2 separate regions of the Homo sapiens genome follow, and region 2 is linked to region 1. A link means that fine-mapping ties the variant in region 1 to the expression of a gene that starts in the linked region. Tissue or cell type: whole blood. Region 1 holds a variant in brackets; the other region holds the start of a gene. All regions are shown on one strand. Distances are between the middles of the regions.

Region 1 (5,000 bases):
TCCTGTCTCAGCCTCCTAAGTATCTGGGGTTACAGGTGCCCGCCACCATGCCCAGCTAATTGTTCTATTTTTAGTAGCGATGGGGTTTCACCATGTTGGTCAGGCTGGTCTCGAACTCCTGACCTCAGGCAATCCGCCCGCCTCGTCCTCCCAAAGTGCTGGGATTACAGGTGTGAGCCACCGTGCCCAGCCATGTCCCTTTATTCTATTCCATGCTCACTAAGAAACCTACTTACTGATTTTGCTTCCCGAAAGAGGGCTGCCCTGAACTGTGGTTCCAAGTTCCTCATGGAAGCAGTGGAATAGCCACTATTGTAAAATAACAAACATTTGGGTTTAAATATCAGCTTCTGGTTAATTTGGTTTTCGTGAGTCAGATCTTTCACCACTGGGTATAATAACAAAGCCAAGTGTCTTGACAAACAAGCCTGAGACCAGGCTCTGGTCAGCAGTGACTACACTAAGTATAGGAGGCACCACAATATGAAACTTGCATTCAGTGTCCAGCCAGCTGCCCTGTCACTGTCAGCATCCTCAAATTGCAACAAAGATTTTAGAGCTTTTAAGAGAGAAATCACTGACAAGAATAACAGGAGATGAGTGATGAAGTTCTATTATCCGACTAAAACTGCTTTGAGGAAACAGTGACTAGGAGAGAGGGACAGGGGAGAGGAGCAAGAGAGAAAGAATGAGAGAGAGAGAGAGAGATTGTGTGTTACACCACCACCCTGAGAGCCAACAGTGATACTCATTCTCACAACAGAATTAAGCCCCTGGAAGCAATTGCTGGGCCCACTTGAAACTCTACAGAGAAATCAGAAAAACATGATGGAGGGAAAGAAGCTGCTAACATGTATTAAAACAACAAAGATGGGCCGGGCGCAGTGGCTCGCACCTGTAATCCCATCACTTTGGGAGGCTGAGGCAGGTGGATCACCTGAGGTCAGAAGTTCCAGACCAACCTGGCCAACATGGTGAAACCCCATCTCTACTAAAAATACAAAAAATTAGCCAGGCATGGTGGTGGACAACTGTCATCCCAGCTACTTGGGAGGCTGAGGCAGGAGAATCGCTTGAACCTGGAAGGCAGAGGTTGCAGTGAGCCAAGATCGCACCACTGCACTCCAGCCTGAGTGACAGAGCAAGACTCCATCTCAAAAGCAAACAAGCAAAAAAAAACAACAAAAATGATAGGATAAAGAACAAGAAGGATAAGTCATATGCTAAGGGTATGAGAGGCACCCTTCTTGACAAGTACACAGAGTGGAACACAGGCGTTAGCTGTGGAAGGGTCCCGAAGTGAGGAGAACAAAGGACTAAGACTTGCCAGATGTTGGAAGGTCATGGCTTCTTAAAATACCTTCCAGCTGCTTGATACGGTTATTCTTGAGGTCTAGTAGTCGAGTCAACCTCTCCAGCTTTTCTTTGTGATCTCTATTATCATTGTCAGCTTTTGTCATCATTGCCTCCAGTTCCTCCTGAAACAAAATAATGTCTGAACTTTTCTATCTCAGTGGCCTAAAACCAAAGAGCATAAAAAATGTGGCACTGGCTAGGTCAAGAAGACTGCTATCCTTAGCTGGGCAGGTTCACCCACTAGAAGAAGGTTTGATTTCCTTGCAGACCCCTCCAAGACTAGTTGTGCTATCATTGAGGTAGGGTGGTTCCTAGGACTGGCAAAATTTGAACCCAGAAGCCTTACGCTTGCCATTGGCATGGGCTGGCCCCATCACTGGCTCCTAGTGCCAAGGTGCCGTGGGCATGTGTGAGTCCTCAAGTTCTTCAAAGGACAGCCATTGTGTGTTTGCTCAGGATAGCACATCACCTGGTATCAGCCCTGGAAACTTAGGTCTTGCTTCATTCCCAGTCCTGTGAGTGGTTCCCACGTTCCTGTTATCCATCCCCTTCCTGTACCATCTTTCCTTGCACCTGATAACACACGTTGATTTTGCGCTGCAGAATAAGCATGTCCCTGGTCTTTTCTAGTTCCAATGTGGTCTCTGCGTGTGATACTTGCAACTCATTTAGCACCTGGGACAGTTTCTTTTCTTCTTGGTTTTTGGGTTCACTTGGCTGTAGAGGGAAACGCATTGGTAAAAGGGAGTATAAATATGACAGGTAAAGTAATAATGATTCTCCATAAAACAGTTGTTGGTAGTAGTAAAATGCCAGCAGCAGAAACTACTCCAAAATGTAAACAAGGACCTGTATGACTTCACAAGTGCTCTTTCCCCTAGTTCTCATGTTCAGTAGCAGCAGTGAAGGGAGATGATACAGCCACTAATGGCTGTTTGCTCTTCCACAGATCTTTTCAAGTCCTCATCTGAAAAAGATTCTAAATTTTATGAGCTGCAAAGAGTGGAAGAAATGGGTGGAGCTCATGAAGTTCTCTACGCTCTGCCTTCTCACAGTTTTCCAAAAAGTGTCCTCAAGCAGGGCACAGTGGCACGTGCCTGTAATCCCAGCACTTTGGGAGGCTGAGTTGGGCGGATCACCAGAGGTCAGGAGTTCGAGACCAGCCTGGCCAAAATGGCGAAACCCTGTCTCTACTAAAAATACAAAAAATTAGCCGGCTGTGGTGGCAAGCACCTGTAATCCCAGCTACTCGGGAGGCTGAGGAAGGAGAATTGCTTAAACCTGGGAGGCAAAGACTGTAGTGAGCCGAGATCGCGCCATTGCACTCCAGCCTGGGAAACAAGAGCAAAACTCCATCTCAAAAAAAAAAAAAAAAAAAAAGAGTGGGCCGGGCG[C/T]GGTGGCTTACGCCTGTAATCCCAGCACTTTGGGAGGCCGAGGTGGGCGGATCACGAGGTCAGGAGATCGAGACCATCCTGGCTAACACGGTGAAACCCCGTCTCTACTAAAAATACAAAAAAATTAACCGGGCGAGGTGGCGGGTGCCTGTAGTCCCAGCTACTCGGAAGGCTGAGGCAGGAGAACGGCGTGAACCCCAGGGGGCGGAGCCTGCAGTGAGCCGAGATCGCGCCACTGCACTCCAGCCTGGGCGACAGCGAGACTCTGTCTCAAAAAAAAAAAGAGTGTCCTCAGTCAGGACAAAATATTATTTAGTTAGTTTTCTAATCTCATCATCTTCCCTAGAGATATTTGCCAGAGATCTCTCTGCAGAGTGGACTAGTTTGTTTAAAGAGGCTCTTACCTCGATCTGAGTGTTCTCTTGCAATACAGCTGGGTGAGTGGCTGGTTCAGATTGCCTGTCAGGAGGTTGGGAAATTGTGGCTGCATTTTGGAGGAGCTCTACTTCCTGTTTATGCTTCTGAAGTATGTTGGTGACTTCAAGCTTCAGATCCTCATTTTGGGCTGGGGAAAAATAATCCAGAAATGTGAAATTCTGTAGTTATTTATCACCATGGTCAGAGTTGGATCAAGTGTGAATTTAATCTTCCCACTAAGGTTTAATTAATGTTATAAATTTGAGAAGCAATTCTCTATTATTTCTACAGAGGAGGACTCTAGCTTATTGACTCAGTAAACTGAGGTGATACTACTTGCACTCCGAAAACAAAAGACACCTGCAGAATGGTAGAGTGGAAAGTGGAATAACAATAACAACACAAAACAGAAAGGGAATCACTTGACTAGGGTAATCCAAACTTTTTGACAGCAGCATCGAAACCAGTATCTCACCAACTCCACCCCCACTCCATTCTGACTTCTAGGTTACTAGCTCTCTGTGGCACCCATCTTCACACCCACCCTGGCCTGGATGGAGGATGGGCATTTCTGTGTTCCAATGTGTGTGTGTGTGTTTTTCTCTTTAGACAGTCTTACTCCATCACTCAGGATGGAGTGCAGTGGTGCGATCTTGGCTCCCTGCAACCTATGCCTCCAGGGTTCAACGATTCTTGTGCCTCAGCCTCCTGAGTAGCTGGTATTACAGGCGCACGACACTACGACTGGCTAATTTTCGTGTTTTTAGTAAAGATGGGGTTTCACCATGTTGGCCAGGCTGGTCTGAAACTCCTGGCCTCATGTGATCTGCTGGCCTCGGCCTCCCAATGTGCTGGGATTACAGGCATGAGCCACCACACCAGGCTGTGTGTGTGTTTTTCAGGGAATAAAGGTAATCGGTGTTTAGTGAGCAGATCATTTCCATCATGCATTAGAGAAGGGATTAAATTAGATTGCCCTGAAGGTCCTTACAAGACTTCATTTGTGCTTCAAACATACTAATTGGCATGTGCTCCTAAACATGGTTCTTGCCTCTATTTTTCTTGATTTCACACATTTCTTTTCCTTCCGTTCCCTATTTGAATACACTAAAACTTGATGAGATATAAATTTGATAAAACTAAATATTAAGGTCCAGGCTAGGAAAAAGTAGTAAGATGAAGGTCTTTTTGACAGTATTTAAAAATGTTCCAAATACCTATCTCCTGAGATCCAAGAGTTAAGACGGGGGTGAACTGGCAGTGGTAACCAAGAATAGTAATTTGCTACTCAATTTCAAGAATTGGATGGCAAAAAAAAAAAAAAGTATTCCAGTTACCTCTAAAATGATGAGAAGGATAAAAGACAAAGAAATTCACTTTCAATACTTTCAGCCAGGTGTAGTGGCTTTCACCTGTAATCCCAGCACTTTGGGAGGCTGAGGCGGGTGGATCACTTGAGGTTAGTTTCAGACCAGCCTGGCCAACATAGTGAACCCTCGTCTCTACTAAAATATACAAAAAATTAGTTGGGTGTGGTGGTGGGCACCTGCAATCCCAGCAACTCGGGAGGCTGAGGCAGGAGAATCTCTTGAACCTGGGAGGCAGAGGTTGAAGTGAGCCCAGATCGCATCACTGTACTCCAGCCTGGGTGACAGAGTGAGACTCTCTCAGAAACAAAACCAAACCAAACCAAACAAAAGAAAACTTTCAATAAACTGAACGTTTAAAAAACATAATAAATTAAAAACTGGCAGGTCGGGCACAGTGGCGCACGCCTGTAATCCCAGCACTTTGGGAAGCTGAGGCTGGTGGATCATCTGAGGTCAGGAGTTC
Region 2 (6,159 bases), 40 kb after region 1:
CGGATGGATCACCTGCGGCCAGGAGTTCGAGACTAGCCCAGCCACATGACAAAAGTTAGCTGGGCATGGTGACAGGCGCCTGTAATCCGGCTACTCGGGAGGCTGAGGCAGGAGAATCGCTTCAACCCGGCAGGTGGAGATTGCAGTGAGCCAAGATCGTGCCACTGCACTCCACTCCAGCCTGGGCAAAGCAGAGTGAGACTCTGTCTAAAAAAAAAAAAAAAGTAAATCTGCATTTAGTTTACAAGTAAATCTCCATTTGAAGTACCATATATAGGGGCTGGGCACAGTGGCTCATGCCTGTAATCCCAGCACTTTGGGAGGCCGAGGCGGGCAGATCACAAGGTCAGGAGTTTGAGACCAGCCTGGCTAACATGGCGAAACCCCATTTCTACTAAAAATACAAAAATTAGCTGGGTGTAGTGGCTCATGCCTGTAGTCCCAGCTGCTCTGGAGGCTGAAGCAGGAGAATCGCTTGAGCACAGGAGGCGGAGATTGCAGTGAGCCAAGATTACACCATTGCACTCCAGCCTGGGCGACAGTGTGAGACAGCTTCTCAAAAAATAATAATAATAAATAAAATAAATAGAGTAGCATCTACAGGTTTACTTAGTCACCCACCTTCCTAGTTTCCTACTGTAGAAAAGTAATGTGAAGGAAAAGGAAAGGTGACTGCATCATAAGCTTGGTCCTCTGGACCTGAAGCCATTTGCAAAAATGGAGCTGTAGTAGAAGGGATGCTGTTGTTCTTAATATCTGGGCCCAGAGCACATTGACGCACCACCAATGCTATATGGCACTATGGAGCAATTGAAAAGTATCATTAAAACTGAAGTCACAGAAGCTCTAAGAATGAAATGGAGTTTATTGGAATGCTAGAGAAGAAAAGCCAGTTGAGACTGTCAGTGAAGGCGTGTTGAACATCCAGTGGCCAGATTTAATTTCTCAGGAATGAAAAAGTGGAATGTAGGCCGGGCACAGTGGCTCACGCCTGTAATCCCAGCACTTTGGGAGGCCGAGATGGGTGGATCACAAGGTCAGGAGATCAAGACTATCCTGGCTAACGTGGTGAAACTCCATCTCTACTACAAAATACAAAAAATTAGCCGGGTGTGGTGGCACGCGCCTGTAGTCCCAGCTACTGGGGAGGCTGAGGCAGGAGAATGGCGTGAACCTGGGAGGCGGAGCTTGCTGTGAGCCGAGATCACGCCACTGCACTCCAGCCTGGGAGACAGAGCGAGACTCTGTCTCAAAAAAAAAAAAAAAAAAAAAATGGAATGTAGATTCTAAAAGGGTTTATCAATTGTTTTGAACTCAACAGGATGAAAGACTGAAGAAACTTCCACCCGGCGTGGTGGCTCACGCCTGTAATCCCAGCACTATGGGAGGCTGAGGCGGGCTGATCATGAGGTCAGGAGATCGAGACCATCCTGGTCAACATAGTGAAACCCCGTCTCTACTAAAATACAAAAAAATTAGCCAGGCATGGTGGTGCGTGCCTGTAGTCCCAGGTACTCAGGAGGCTGAGGCAGGGGAATTGCTTGAACCTGGGAGGCAGAGATTGCAGTGAGGTGAGATCACGCCACTGCACTCCAGCCGGGTGACAGAGCAAGACTCCGTCTTAAAAAAAAAAAAATTTCCTTGCAGTGATATTCAGAATTGCAGTGCACTTGGACAAGTATAGGTTAGTGAGGGTGAAGAACCCTTTACTAGTGATAGATGGATAGACGTATAAAGCCAGCTTGATGACATCAGCAATTAAAATTTTCTTTTCCTCTTTTTTCGAGACAGAGTATCACATTGTTGCCTGGGCTGGAGTGCAATGTTGCAATCTCAGTTTACTGCAACCTCCGCTTCCCGGGTTCAAGCGATTCTCCTGTCTCAGCCTCCAGAGTAGCTGGGATTACAGGCACCTGCCACCATGCCCAGCTAATTTTTTGTATTTTTTAGTAGAGACAAGATTTCACAATTTTGGCCAGGCTGGTCTCGAACTCCGGACCTTGGGATCCGCCAGCCTCGGTCTCCCAACGTGCTGGGATTACAGGCATGAGCCACCCTGCCCAGACTTCTTTTTTTTCTTTTTTACACTCTGTATCACTGGGCAAGCATTTAAAATTTTGTAGCCAGTTCCCCTTACTCTGATTATTATTATTATTATTATTATTATTATTATTTATTTTTTTTTTTTTTGAGACAAGGTCTCACTCTGTTGCCCAGGCTGGAGTACAGCGGTATGCTCTCGCCTCACTGCAACCTCTGCCTCCAGGGTTCAAGCAATTCTCATGTCTCAGCCCCCCAGGCAGCTGCAATTACAGGCGCAAGCCGCCACGCCCAGCTAATTTTTCTATTCTTAGTAGAGACAGGGTTTTGCCATGTTGGCCAGACTGGTCTTGAACTCCTGATCTCAAGTGATCCACCCGCCTCAGCCTCCCAAAATGCTGAGATTACAGGTGTGAGCCAACACGCCTGGGCCAAGAGTAGATTTTTAAGTGTTCTCATCAAACACAAAAAATTGATGAGCATATGAGGTAATACATATTTTAATTAGCCCAAGATTGGGCAGGTGTGGTGGCTCACGCCCGTAATCCCAGCACTTTGGGAGGCCAAGGCGGGCAGATCACAAGATCAAGAGATCAAGACCATCCTGGCCGTGGCCAACATGGTAAAACCCTGTCTCTACTAAAAATGCAAAAATTAGCTGGGCATGGTGGTGCGCACCTGTAGTCCCAGCTACTCGGGAGGTTGAGGCAGGAGAATTGTTTGAACCCAGGAGGCAGAGGTTGCAGTGAGCCGAGATTGAGCCACTGCACTCCAGCCTCACGAGAGAGAGAGATTCTGTCTCAAAAAAAAAAAAAAGAAAAGCCCAAGGTAGCCATTTTCCACTCTCTCTATATATATATTTCAAAGCAACAAATTTTACACAATAAATATATACAATTTCAAATTGTCAATTAAAAATTAATTAATTTGAAAAGGAGTTTTATTCATTCTGCAGATAGTGGATACATTTCTGAGCAAAAGAGCAATATAATTAGAGCTATGGAAGAGCATTAGGAAGATTCATCTACTATTAGTGATTTGGAAATTGGGGAGAGAACAGTGTTAAGAGGATATTGCTATAGTTCAGGCAAGAAGTCTTGAACTAGGGAAGGAGGGGGGTGGGGGATGGAAGAATAGGATGGATCATGAAGACACTGAGGAAGGAGAATCAAAAGATGTGACAACTGGTTGGACGTGAGATAGAGTTAAGAGGGTGACAGGATTAAAGATGACTTGGTAATGTTGTGCTGGATGCCTGGGAGACTGGTGGTACAATAGAAAATGAATAAACCAGGCCAGGCGCGGTGGCTCATGCCAGTAATCCCAGCACTTTGGGAGGCCGAGGCGGGTGAATCACCTGAGGTCAGGAGTTCAAGACCAGCCTGGCAAACATGGTGAAACCCCGTCTCTACTAAAAACACAAAAATTAGCCGGGCAATGGTGGCGCATGCCTGTAGTCCCCAGCTACTTGGGAGGCTGAGGCAGGAGAATCGCTTGAACCTGGGAGGCAGAGGTTGCAGTGAGCAGAGATAGTGCCGGTGCACTCCAGCCTGGGCGACAGAGTAAGACTCTGTCTCAAAAAAAAAAAAAAAAAAAAGAATAAACTTATTTCATTCTTCTCAAAAACACCCCTAGGGAAGACATAGGAAACTATAAATATGCATCAGATAGAAACTTACAGTTCTTGCTTGCTCCAGATAGCTGTCGCTAATTCTTTTCTCTCAATGTTCTGGTGTCCTTTAGTACTCTAGGTTCCAATAAGCTTGTCCTTCTGGCTTGTTAAAAGAGGAGCTAATCCAGTTCTGTTTAGCTTTTAAGATGTTAACTCTTTGTAGATCAGAGTGTGTGAAGGCTGTGCTTTTTCTCTATGCATGTTTGACTTGGAGAAAGAGCAGCTTAAAGGGTCCTTAACAGATCCACTTCTCAACTAAAACTAAAGCTGAGAACACATTTGCGGGATTTGAGATTAAAAGAAATTTGTTGGTATTCAGAGGATGATCTTTAAATCTTTTATTTATTTATTTATTTATTTTGAGACAGAGTTTCACTCTTGTTGCCCAGGCTGGAGTGCAATGGCGCGATCTCGGCTCACCGCAACCTCTGCCTCCCAGGTTCAAGCAATTCTCCTGCCTCAGCCTCCCGAGTAGCTGGGATTACAGGCATGCACCACCACAGCCAGCTCACTTTGTATTTTTAGTAGAGATGGAGTTTCTCAATGTTGAGGCTGGTCTCGAACTCCTGACCTCAGGTGATCTGCCCGCCTTGGCCTCCCAAAGTGCTGGGATTACAGGCTTGAGCCACCGCGCCCGGCCGATATTCTTTAAATCTTTATCTGAAGGGCAACAACAGTGGGAGTTGTTCTGAAGCCCTGAGATCCCTTTGAAGAGAACAAACACTGCACCGTTGGTGGGATCAACATGCCTATTCAGTCCACATGTGCCAGTGCTTTCGAGTAAGAGAATGTATATCTTCCATTTCACCGTGACCACCGTTTTGAAACCAAACTTTGGGATGTAATTATGAAGCAATAGGATTTGATATAAGAAAATTAAATGTTCTTAAAAATTCTGCAAGGCTGGTCACTGCATTCATATTATATATTAAGTGGAATACGGTCTCAATTGTTACATAAAATCCTCTTTATTTATTTATTTATTTTGAGATGCAGTTTCGCTCTTGTTACCTAGGCAGGAGTGCAATGGTGCGATCTCGGCTCACTGCAACCTCTGCCTCCCGGGTTCAAGCAATTCTCCTGCCTCAGCCTCCTGAGTAGCTGGGATTACAGGCATGCGCCACCACGCCCAGCTAATTTTGTATTTTTACTAGAGACAAGGTTTCTCCATGTTGGTCAGGCTGGTCTCGAACTCCCGACCTCAGGTGATCCACCTACCTTGGCCTCCCAAAGTGCTGGGATTACAGGCCTGAGCCACCACGACTGGCCTAAATCCTCTCTTTAATGCACTGAATGGGTGCATTGAGAAAGCTCCATTCTGGTTATTGGCATGAGGTTCGGGGATTTCCAGGAGGATGAACACATAGTTAATGGGCCCCATGTGACTTCCTCTAAATCCCATGAAATAATAAAATAAAATAAAATAAAATAAAGCTAGGGAGACAATTAGGAAGTAGAGAAAGTATCCAGGACACATACATTTCCCAGTGAAGAGAGGAAAATTCAATATAATATTTTACCAGGTTTAAATGACAGATTTATAAAATTTAAAAGCTGGGCTTTTATGCACTTAAGGTTGCTTCTTGCCCAAGCTATTTCTTGATAAATCTGGGATTTTCTGTCCTTTTTTAAGATGCTCTAGCCAGAGACAGTGCAGGACAAAATTAATTTTGAAGTAAGCCAAGTTTGTGTTTGATAATCGTGTTCTCTTTTCTGAACCTCTGACTTTTGTTAATTTTTTTTTTTTTTTTTTTTTGAGACGGAGTTTTGCTCTTGTTGCCCAGGCTGGTGTGCAATGGCACAATCTTGGCTCACTGCAACCTCTGCCTCCCGGGTTCAAGAGATTCTCCTGCCTCAGTCTCCCTAGTGGCTGGGATTACAGGCACCCGCCACCACACCCAGCTAATTTTTTGTATTTTTAGTAGAGATGAGGTTTCACTATGTTGGCCTGGCTGGTCTTGACCTCCTGACCTCAGGTGATTCACCCGCCTTAGCCTCCCACAGTGCTGGTATTACAGGCGTGAGCCACCATTCCCGGCTGACTTTTGTTAATTTTTAAAACATCTCCTACCTCTTTCAGGCAACCAGTTTCCCTTAACATTCTCATTACATCTTGGAGTGAATTTACGTGATACTTTTTCCACTAGGCTTAATGTACTTCTCAATGTAGACAGTAAGACTTTGTTCTGTGTTAAAGAAATTTCAGGCCGGGCACGGTGGCTCACACCTGCAATCCCAGCACTTTGGGAGGCTGAGGTGGGTGGATCACCTGAGGTCAAGAATTCGAGACCAGCCTGACCAACATGGTGAAATCCCATCTCTACTAAAAATACAAACATTAGCTGGGCGTGGTGGCAGGCACCTGTAATCCCAGCTACTCACCAGGCTGAGGCAGTGAGAATCACTTGAACCCCAGAGGCGGAGGTTGCAGTGAGCCGAGACTGCAC

Evidence for each region. PIP is the estimated chance that this variant, and not a neighbour inherited with it, causes the effect.
Region 2: RPGRIP1 starts here. The variant in region 1 is the best candidate, but not a certain one, in a credible set for the expression of RPGRIP1 in whole blood (TOPMed, PIP 0.51).

What each region holds. Positions count from the first base shown.
Region 1 is chr14:21,318,332-21,323,331 of GRCh38, reverse strand. It overlaps RPGRIP1 (RPGR interacting protein 1), which reads right to left. Exons shown (of 25, transcript NM_020366.4): 12 at 3,155-3,315; 13 at 1,930-2,073; 14 at 1,328-1,478. Among named protein-coding and RNA genes, the nearest start is that of RPGRIP1, 41 kb to the right of the region's middle. The variant C/T (reference allele first, on the strand shown) is at 2,751.
Region 2 is chr14:21,277,720-21,283,878 of GRCh38, reverse strand. It overlaps RPGRIP1 (RPGR interacting protein 1), which reads right to left and starts at 3,796. Exons shown (of 25, transcript NM_020366.4): 1 at 3,720-3,796.